Linked DNA regions of Homo sapiens: region 2 is linked to region 1. The links come from fine-mapping of genetic effects on gene expression. Tissue or cell type: whole blood. Region 1 holds a variant in brackets; the other region holds the start of a gene. All regions are shown on one strand. Distances are from middle to middle. Region 1 overlaps COTL1 (coactosin like F-actin binding protein 1). Region 2 holds the start of COTL1 (coactosin like F-actin binding protein 1).

Region 1 (5,513 bases):
TTGCGTGTGGCAGCGCTTCATTCCTCTCTGTGGCTGAGGAATATTCCATTGTGTGGACGGACCGTGTTTTGATAATCCACTCCTCTGTTGATGGACATAGGGGTTGCTTCCACCTTCCATGATTCATATTTACTACTGTGTGTCATTCTCAGTACTGTGGCACTGTGCTGGTACACATAAGTGCTTAATAATTGTGGTTAGCCGGGCGTGGTGGCTCACGCCTGTAGTGCCAACACCTTGGGAGGCCAAGCTGGGCGGATCACTTAAGGCCAGGAGTTTGAGACCAGCCTGGCCAATGTGGCGAAACCCTGCTTCTACTAAAAATACAAAAAATAGCTGGGTGTGGTGGCAGACGCCTGTAGTTCGAGCTACTTGGGAGGCTGAGACATGAGAATGGCTTGAACCCTGGGGGCAGAGGTTGCTGTGAGCCAAGATTGCGCCACTGCACTCCAGCCTGGGCAACAGGCTTTTCTCTCAAGAAAAAGAAAAATGGTGGTCATTGTTTATGTTATTTCCTTATGGGCTTTTTTTTTTAATGTGGATGATTTTCTTACCTTTAGACGTGTTATTTGTGGTTTTGATAGCTTTTTTTTGTCAAGCTGTCCGTCATCGTTCTGAAATTTTGTTTGTTAAAGTCTTATGATCCACATATGGCAGTAACTGTGTATCATCATGGCTTAAGGGTGTCTGATAAGCCAGGTCACCTGGTTCCCTCATTCATGCCACAAGCGTTTACTGAGTGCATCATGGGTGCCTGCGGGTTCTATGGGTGAAACCTGTGTACTGCAAGAGGAAAGACTGACTGCATCCATTTTGCTGAGCCCTGTAGCCCCACAGCCTGGCGTGGTATTTGTTGAAAGAAGGCAGAGCCTCTACCCTCGTGTAACTCAGTGCGGGTGGAGAGCCCATGGCAGACCCAGGACTGGAGGCTCCTGCGTCATTAGGAACATTGGTGGCTGAAGCTTGCTTGTCCCAGCTGGCGAGAGCCAATTACGCCTGTCTCCTTCCACCTCCACGTATGGTGACATCACTTTGATAGCTTGACGTCAGCCACTGGGGGACTATTTACATCATGGATATGGGCAAAAGACACCAATCTGAGCTTTTGTCCTTTTCTTTTTTTTGGAGTGCCTGCACACCCGTGAGCCTTTCCAACCTCGTAACCTATTATTTTCCTGACGAGATAGTTTTTTACAGATGAGAAAGTTGAGGCACAGAGAATTGAAGGGACTTGGCCAAGGTAACAGCCCAAATTCAAGCCCCAGCTTCCTCGGGCCATCCCCACGGACATGGGAAGACGCAGCATCAGATCTGCCCCACTCCCTCCTCCCAGTCAGGTTTTTTCTGCCAGATGACTCTGCTGTTCAATTTCCATTGACTCTGCTGCTGAATTTCCATTGACTGACTCTGCTGCTGAATTTCCATTTCCATCTCTCATCAGGGTTTTCAGTGCTTTGCTTCCCAGTGTGTTGCCTGAGCCACCCTCACATCCTGTGCCTTCCTTCTTAATAGGAACGCTGTGTTTTCCTTTGTTCTTGCAGAATTTCGCTAAGGAGTTTGTGATCAGTGATCGGAAGGAGCTGGAGGAAGATTTCATCAAGAGCGAGCTGAAGAAGGCGGGGGGAGCCAATTACGACGCCCAGACGGAGTAACCCCAGCCCCCGCCACACCACCCCTTGCCAAAGTCATCTGCCTGCTCCCCGGGGGAGAGGACCGCCGGCCTCAGCTACTAGCCCACCAGCCCACCAGGGAGAAAAGAAGCCATGAGAGGCAGCGCCCGCCACCCTGTGTCCACAGCCCCCACCTTCCCGCTTCCCTTAGAACCCTGCCGTGTCCTATCTCATGACGCTCATGGAACCTCTTTCTTTGATCTTCTTTTTCTTTTCTCCCCCTCTTTTTTGTTCTAAAGAAAAGTCATTTTGATGCAAGGTCCTGCCTGCCATCAGATCCGAGGTGCCTCCTGCAGTGACCCCTTTTCCTGGCATTTCTCTTCCACGCGACGAGGTCTGCCTAGTGAGATCTGCATGACCTCACGTTGCTTTCCAGAGCCCGGGCCTATTTTGCCATCTCAGTTTTCCTGG[A/G]CCCTGCTTCCTGTGTACCACTGAGGGGCAGCTGGGCCAGGAGCTGTGCCCGGTGCCTGCAGCCTTCATAAGCACACACGTCCATTCCCTACTAAGGCCCAGACCTCCTGGTATCTGCCCCGGGCTCCCTCATCCCACCTCCATCCGGAGTTGCCTAAGATGCATGTCCAGCATAGGCAGGATTGCTCGGTGGTGAGAAGGTTAGGTCCGGCTCAGACTGAATAAGAAGAGATAAAATTTGCCTTAAAACTTACCTGGCAGTGGCTTTGCTGCACGGTCTGAAACCACCTGTTCCCACCCTCTTGACCGAAATTTCCTTGTGACACAGAGAAGGGCAAAGGTCTGAGCCCAGAGTTGACGGAGGGAGTATTTCAGGGTTCACTTCAGGGGCTCCCAAAGCGACAAGATCGTTAGGGAGAGAGGCCCAGGGTGGGGACTGGGAATTTAAGGAGAGCTGGGAACGGATCCCTTAGGTTCAGGAAGCTTCTGTGTAAGCTGCGAGGATGGCTTGGGCCGAAGGGTTGCTCTGCCCGCCGCGCTAGCTGTGAGCTGAGCAAAGCCCTGGGCTCACAGCACCCCAAAAGCCTGTGGCTTCAGTCCTGCGTCTGCACCACACATTCAAAAGGATCGTTTTGTTTTGTTTTTAAAGAAAGGTGAGATTGGCTTGGTTCTTCATGAGCACATTTGATATAGCTCTTTTTCTGTTTTTCCTTGCTCATTTCGTTTTGGGGAAGAAATCTGTACTGTATTGGGATTGTAAAGAACATCTCTGCACTCAGACAGTTTACAGAAATAAATGTTTTTTTTGTTTTTCAGAAAACAGTTTGGTTTCTGATTTGTCCTACAAAGTTCTTTTTTTTTTTTTGCTGTAATAACAGAGGCAGTCATCATCGCCTTCAGATTTAATAGGTGTTTGCGGAGCTGCTGAGGCGGGGCACATTCACATTCAATTGCTTATTTAATTCTTAGCAACCATAAGAAACAGGTGCTGCTTTTGTCCCCATTTCCTGAAATCTGAGGCTCAGAGGGATTCATTCACCCGAGGTCACCCAGATAGAAAGTGGCAGAGCTGGGATTTTTTTTTTTTTTTTTTTTGGTGACAGAGTCTCACTCTGTGGCCCAGGCTGGAGTGCAGTGGGGAGATCTCAGCTCACTGCAACCTCCATCTCCCAGATTCAAGAGATTCTCCTGCTTCAGCCTCCATAGTAGCTGGGATTACAGGTACCCGTCACCATGCCTGGCTAATTATTGTATTTTTAGTAGAGATGGAGTTTCGCCATGTTGGCCAGGCTGGTCTCGAGCTCCTGACCTCAGGTGATCTGCCCGTCTTGGCCTCCCAAAGTGCTGGGATTACAGGCGTGAGCCACCACACCCGGCCAGAGCTGGGATTTGAACTGAGATCTCTCAAAGTCCCTGGTGCTGTGGCTTGTGAGGGGAGCGGGGAGGCCACACATTTGGGATAGCGATGGGACCACAGGTAGTGATTCTTTTTGAGTGGCCAGAACTCCCCTGTCTGCCTGTTTAGGAAAAGCCAAGAGAAAGCATCTTCCTCGTTGGCCATGACATCCTTTCTGAGGTTATCCTACAGCTGAGAAACTGGACTTCCAGCACACCAGACCCTGTGGGAGCCCAGAATCAGGGCAGAGGAGTTTCAGACACAGACAGCGGGGCTTGGAGGAGCTGAGTGTGGGGCAGGGAGAGTGCGGAGAGAGGGCAGAAGCCGAAATCAGGGCAGGAAGGAATCCTACAAGGTATGGGCAAGGCCCTGATCATGCTGCCCAGGGTGGCAGGGGGCCATAGGTCACCACCCTCCCCAGCCCCAGCCCGCCCCAGCCACGTCTGGGTTCTAATTTCTGCTCATCTGTTCACAGCTGTGTGGATTTAGGCAATTTAGTTAACCTCTCAGCCTCGGTTTCCTCATCTGCAAAATAGACAACATTGCCTACGTGTAGAAAGGCTTAAGGAGCAGCGAGGATTGTGCAGGCAAAGGGCGCCTGTCAGGGTGCAGTGTTCTTATCTCACGCCTGCCACTGGTCTTGTTAGCTCTGTGGGCTTCCGTCTTTTCCTATACCCAGAGCTGAGGGAGCTAAACTAGGTCCGTTCCCAGTGCACGGGTTTTAGCTCCGTTCAGAACATGGGCTCAGTAGGTGCATGACTTCATGTCACTCATGCACTGCGTCCCGCAAGCCTTCCATCCTCTCCTGGAATCTCCTGGTCGGCCAAGCCCTCCTCCAGGCCCACTGCCCACCCCACTCCCTGCCCCAAAGCAGACTAGAAAGAATGAGCAGCTCTCAAATCTGCCCCTAGGCCTGTGGTCTCATCCCTGGCTGTGAATTAGGATCACTGGGAGCTTTGAAAATACAGATGAGGCCTCTATCCCAGACTAGTGAGTGAAATTGGAGTGCCAGACTCAACGAACGCCAGCTTTTCCTTTCCAGACAGCTGCAGAAGTGGCCCTGATCCCGGGCAGGAGGGGCTGGAAGGGAGGCCTGCCTCTCCCTCTGTGGGTTCCTCTCGTGAGTGGAATCTTGTTTGTTTTCATTTTGTTAGTTTTGAGACAGGGTCTCACTCTGCCACCCAGGCTGGAGTGCAGCGGCACAATCACAGCTCACTGCAGTCTCCATCTCCTGGGCTCAATCGATCCTTCTGCCTCAGCCTCCTGAGTAGCTGGGACTACAGGTGTGCACCACCATGCCCAGCTAAGTTTTGTATTTTTTTAGATAGGAGGTCTCCCTATGCTGCCCAGGCTGGTCTCAAACTCCTGGACTTGAGCGATCCTCCCACCTCAACCTCTCAGAGTGTAGGGCTTACAGGCGTGAGCCACTGCACCCAGCCATGACTGGAATCTTGAAGGGCAAGTGCAGACAGGTTTATTGAGCACCTACTATGTGCCAGGCACTGGCCTAGGTATGGGGATTTGATGATGAACAAACTCAGACAGCCCCCACCCTCAAGGAGGCTGAGTCTAGCAGGGATGATGGATATTAATCAGCTTGTCCCACCAGAGGGTGTGTGTTTCCAGATGAGGATAAGTCTCCTTCAGAGAAAAAAGCCCAGGTTCCATGAGAGCTCACAAGGGCCCTGGATCTGGCTAGGGTATGGGGGAGGGCTTCCCTAAGGAGGTGGTACCTGAGCTGAGAACGCGGGGAAAGGAGGGGAGGAACAGGAAAGCGTGGACATAAGCTCCATGGAATGTTTGCCCACGGGTGAGCCAGGGTCTGAAGCAGCTTGTTCGTGTGTCAAGGAGCTTGGCTTTAACTTGAAAACTGCAGCTTGGGCCTTTGCTGGGGATCCCAAGGGATCATGAGACCACTGAAGGCAGAGAAACCTTGCCTTTTTTTTTTTTTTCTGAGACAGAGTCTTGCTCGGTCACCCAGGCTGGAGTGCAATGGCGCTATGTCGGCCCACTGCAACCTCCGCCTCCTGGGTTGC
Region 2 (5,000 bases), 52 kb before region 1:
AAATCTCCATACCCAGGGCATATCTCAGACCAATTATATCAGAATGTCTGGGTGTGGGATCAGGGGACCCTGGTGATTCCCATGTCCAGCCATGGCTGGGCACCACTGACCCTATAGGGTAAATGGATTGATCAAGGGCACACAGACTTGTAAATTTGCTAGACATTGCCAACTGGCCTCTACGGCGGCTCCATGGGGGTTGTGTCAATTCACACTCCCACCAGCAATGTACAAGAGGACCTGGGTCTTCCACAGCCTCCCCAGCAAAGTAGGCTTGTCAAAGTTTTTTATTTTTACCAAACTGCTAGTTTATTTATTTATTTTTTAAAGGTATCTCAATTTTGCTTTAATTTGCATTTCTCTTACTAGGAGTTGAGGTTGAGCATCTTTTTGCATGTTTAAGATCATTTAATCTGTCTGGTCATATTCTGTGCCCATTGTTCTTTTCATTTTCTTTTTTTTAAGTTTGACTTCTCTATATTTTAGCAAGACTAATTCTTTACTTGAGTTGCAAACACTTTTTACTGCTTTGTCTTTTTATGTTTACACTTTGCATGAGGTGGTATGGTATGTTTTTTTTTTTTTTTCCTGGATCACTTTTTATGTGTTTGAATGTATTCATCTTTTCAATGGCTTTTGGATTTGGATTTGGGTAACATGGTTTATGGTTAGAAGGAAGCTCCCCATATTTTCTTCTGGCACTTTTGTGATTTCCTTTTTTTGAGACAGAGTCTCGCTTTATCGCTCAAGCTCGAGTGCAATGGTGCGATCTCAGCTCACTGCAACCTCTGCCCCCCGCCCCGGGTTCAAGCGATTCTCCTGCCTCAGCCTCCCAAGTAGCTGGGATTACAGTCGTCTGCCACCACGCCTGGCTAATTTTTGTATTTTTAGTAGAGATGGGCTTTCCCCCTGTTATCCAGGCTGGTCTCGAACTCCTGAGCTTATGAGATCCTCCCACTTCAGCCTCCCAAAATGCTGGGATTACAGGAGTGATCCACTGCGACTGGTCTGATTTCCTTTATTTGTGTTTAAATTTTTGATCCTTTTGGAATTTTCCCTGATCAAAGGATCCACCTTTGTTCTTCTTTCTAATGGCCAATTGTCCCATTACCCTTGTCAAGGAGTAAGGTAGGAATGGCTTTGTGGGGTATGAAATGTGAATTTCTTTTTGTCTTATTTATAACAGCATCTGCCTCTACTCTTCTGAAACTGTGTTCCTGTCCACCCACCCATTCAACTACCCATTGATTGACTGATTGATTGATTCATTCAATTTCTCGTTTTTGTTTTTTTGCTTGTTGAGAATTCTAACATTAATTGGACATTGTCCCTGACCTTTTGGGTTTCTATTTAGGATTTGTTTTTATCACTTAATAACCAACAATGATGACATTTTATCGAATGTCTAGTATATTTGTTCCAAGTATCATTTCAATTACACTTAAAACAAAGCAGTGATGTCAGTTATACTATTTTTCCCATTTGAGGAGTCATTTAAAAGAGGTTTTGAGGCTTTCCAATGGCCCCCAGTTGGAAAGTGGCAGTACTGGATGCAATTCAAGAGCCCAGTCTTCAGGATCCTGCCTTTTTACCTACCTGGACGCTGTAACTGGTCTCTGTGGAATGGCTGGATGAGGGAATGAATGAATGAGTCAGTGAAGGAATGAGGAAGACAGAATGAGTCAGCTCGTGCTTTCAGAGGAGCCCAAAGGGAGAGGTTAAGATAGGAATGCAAATGACCAGAATCCAGAGTAAACGCGAGCCCACCAGCGTTTTGGAAGCAGTCCACTTTCTACCCCCTCCTATTTAAAATGCTTCATTCTTTCCAGTTCCTCCCCACCTAGAATCCATGGAACCAAACGCTGGGGTAGGGACAGTGGCCAGCCTGTCTCCTTGGGTTTGACGCATTACATCATCCACGTGGAGGTCCCCTGTGGAGCTCTGCAGCCCTGCAGCCTCAGGGGCAGGGGGGTGGGGAGAATGAGGAAGGGGGAGAGGGGGAATAGGAGGAGGGAGTAGGGGACAGGGAGGGAGGAGATGCCAGGAGGGTAAGTGGAGAAGAGGGAGGCGAAGCCGGGGGCAGCAGGGGAGGGGGTCAAGGAGGAGGAAAGAGGAGAGCTTGGGGAGAAGGAAATAGGGAGGATGGAGAAGTTTTGGGCTGGGATAGGCAAGAAGAGGGAGGAGGAGAGAGGAAGAAGAATAAAGGGGGAAGGGAGAAAGAGGGGGAGGGAAGGGAGGGGGAAGAGGTCAGGGAAGTGGGGGAAGCAAGCAGTGGGGGAAGAAGAGGAAGGAGGAGGGAGAGGAGGAAGGCGGGGTGGGAAAGGGGGTTGGGGTAGTGGGAGTTTCCAGGGAGGGGTCGGGAGGGGAGGAGGGGAAGTGAGAAGGAGAAGGAGAGAGAAGAGGGATGTTGGGGGAGAAGAGAGCGGGAGGGAGGAGGGAGAGTGAGAGGGAGGAGGCAAAGCCCCTACTCCAGCCCCCACCGCGGAGTTGCGCAAGCCTTCCGGTCTGGGATTGGCCGCCAGAGAATCAAGACGCTCCGCCCCCGCAGCCCGACGGCCAATGAAGAGGCGGGCCGCCGCCTGGGCGGCCAATGGGCGCGGGGGGGCGGGGCGGGCCACGGCCTGGGGTCCCCGCGCGCTCTCCGTCCGCAGTGGAAGCCGCCGCCGCGCTCGCAGCTTGCAGGCGCCGCGTAGCCGTCGCCACCGCCGCCAGCCCGTGCGCCCTCGGCGCGTACCCGCCGCGCTCCCATCCCCGCCGCCGGCCAGGGGCGCGCTCGGCCGCCCCGGACAGTGTCCCGCTGCGGCTCCGCGGCGATGGCCACCAAGATCGACAAAGAGGCTTGCCGGGCGGCGTACAACCTGGTGCGCGACGACGGCTCGGCCGTCATCTGGTAGGAACTTTTCATTCGTCTCCACGCCCCGCTCCCCGGGCTCGCGCGGGGCCTCGTGCACCGAGCCGGCCTCCAGGCGGGACGGATTCGGGCCTCCCGCGCTGTCTTCCTCGCCTTATTCCGGGACGGCGTGCCAGGCCCCCGCGGGCTTCTCCGTGGCCAGCGCGTCTGTTAGATTGTCCTCTGCAAGCGCCGCGTCGCGCGGCCACCAGCGCTGATGTGTGTGTGTGTTTTTTTCTTCTCCCAACCCAAAGGGTGACTTTTAAATATGACGGCTCCACCATCGTCCCCGGCGAGCAGGGAGCGGAGTACCAGCACTTCATCCAGCAGTGCACAGGTAGGGAGGCGCGCCTGCCGGGCGGATGCGCGGTCGTTGGGAGGTTGTCTGCACCCGGGGAGCCCCGGCCAGAGCGAACCCGGGAGGAACCGGTGGCCACATGGGGTGCCCCTGGCGCATGGCGTGGGAGGAACCCGGTGTGAGCGTTTTAAGGCCTCATAAAACCTTCTCCCCTCTGGACATCCGAAGCAACAGAAGTGACCCACCTGCCTCCGCCATCCTACAATGCCTTCTCCAGGCGGGGCAGCTCTTTTGCCCCCTGCGGTCCACTGGTTTTCTAAGGTCAACTCCTGTGTTTCCAAACTCCAGTGTCCATCCAGCTCTTCCCACTGTCCCCTTTGATCAGTCACTGAGCCCAAATACGAACAGGCTAGGGGGCTGCTTGGAAGGGAAAGAAACTCAGCCGCGCCCTCCTTTCTCCCGCTATCATTGTCTGCCCGTGTGCTGATTTTATGTGATTTTTAATTTGACGAGTAGAATCAGATGCAAAAGAGTACACACCATATGATTCCATTTAGAAATCCTAGACAAGGCGAAACTAATCTATGGTGTGAATGTCAGAATCGAGATTAGCTTTTGGGGCTAGATAGCCACTGATGGGGAGGGGCACACCACCCGGACTGCTGGGAGCTGAAAATGTCTCTGTAGACATTTGTTGATCTGGGAGGGGGTTATGCAGGTGTGTACCCGCGTGAAAAATCATCAGACTGTATACTTAAGATTTGTGTGCCTTAGGCACTTCCCTGTGGCTTGTGAACCATGAAAAGAAAGACCACGTGGCAGGCATCGCCATAAACCCTTCGGTAGTGGCAGAGGCTCTGTGATGTTGGTAATGGGACCTTTTAAAGAGATTGGAGAATGCGACTCCCTCCCATCTCTGGTCTTTAGTTGGAAGCAAGCTTTCGGACAACGGCAGCACAGCCCGGAGGTTACGGCGTGGACCCTGAGCCAGACGGTGTGGGTTACTTATTTATTTATTTATTTATTTATTTATTTTTGAGACAGAATCTTCCTCTTTTGCCCAGGCTGGAGTGCAGTGGTACAATCTCAGCTAACTGCAACCTCCGTCTCCCGGGTTCAAGAGATTCTCCTGCCTCAGCCTCCTGAGTAGCTGGGATTACAGGCGCCCACGACCACGCCTGGCTAATTTTTTGTAATTTTAGTAGAGATGGGGTTTTCACCATTTTGGCCAGGCTGGTCTCTAACTTCTGACCTTAGGTGATCTGCCCACCTTGGCCTCTCAAAGTGCTGGGATTACAGGCGTGAGCCACTGCGCCCGGCCGACGGTGTGGGTTCGAATCCCTGAACGGCTGCTTCCTGGCTGTGTGGTTTGGAACGAGTTCCTTAATCTCTGGGGGTCTTGGTTTCCTCACCTGCACTCTCACAGTGCTGTTGCGAGGATAAGTGAGTCAGTATGTATAAAATGCTCAGAACAGTGCCTGTACAAGCTACATGATTGTTTGCGAAATAAATAAAAAGTACAAAATTGTGCCAGGGATCATGTGGGTGTTTCTTTCCTTAACTGCTTCCATAATCAAATTATATTTTGCATTTAGTTCAATTCAAAGGGTATTTGTGGTGTGACTACTAGAGGATGGGTGATACTGAGAACCCGCGTGCGCGCACACACACACACACACACACACAAAACTAAAATTACTCCTTGAGCGCTGCCTGTAGACATTCATTCATTGCTTTTGTAAACAGTTGGCCTAAAATCGCAGCATAAAGCACTGCAACGATGTGGAGAGTTGGCAGGGCAGGATTTGAACC

What was found. PIP is the estimated chance that this variant, and not a neighbour inherited with it, causes the effect.
Region 2: COTL1 starts here. The variant in region 1 is fine-mapped to the expression of COTL1 in whole blood (TOPMed, PIP above 0.99).

The regions. Positions count from the first base shown.
Region 1 is chr16:84,562,984-84,568,496 of GRCh38, reverse strand. COTL1 (coactosin like F-actin binding protein 1) reads left to right here. Exons shown (of 4, transcript NM_021149.5): 4 at 1,542-2,901. The coding sequence ends at 1,652. Among named protein-coding and RNA genes, the nearest start is that of COTL1, 52 kb to the left of the region's middle. The variant A/G (reference allele first, on the strand shown) is at 2,082.
Region 2 is chr16:84,615,728-84,620,727 of GRCh38, reverse strand. It overlaps COTL1 (coactosin like F-actin binding protein 1), which reads left to right and starts at 2,650. Exons shown (of 4, transcript NM_021149.5): 1 at 2,650-2,890; 2 at 3,145-3,227. The coding sequence starts at 2,814. RefSeq lists silencers at 2,392-2,751, 2,772-2,821.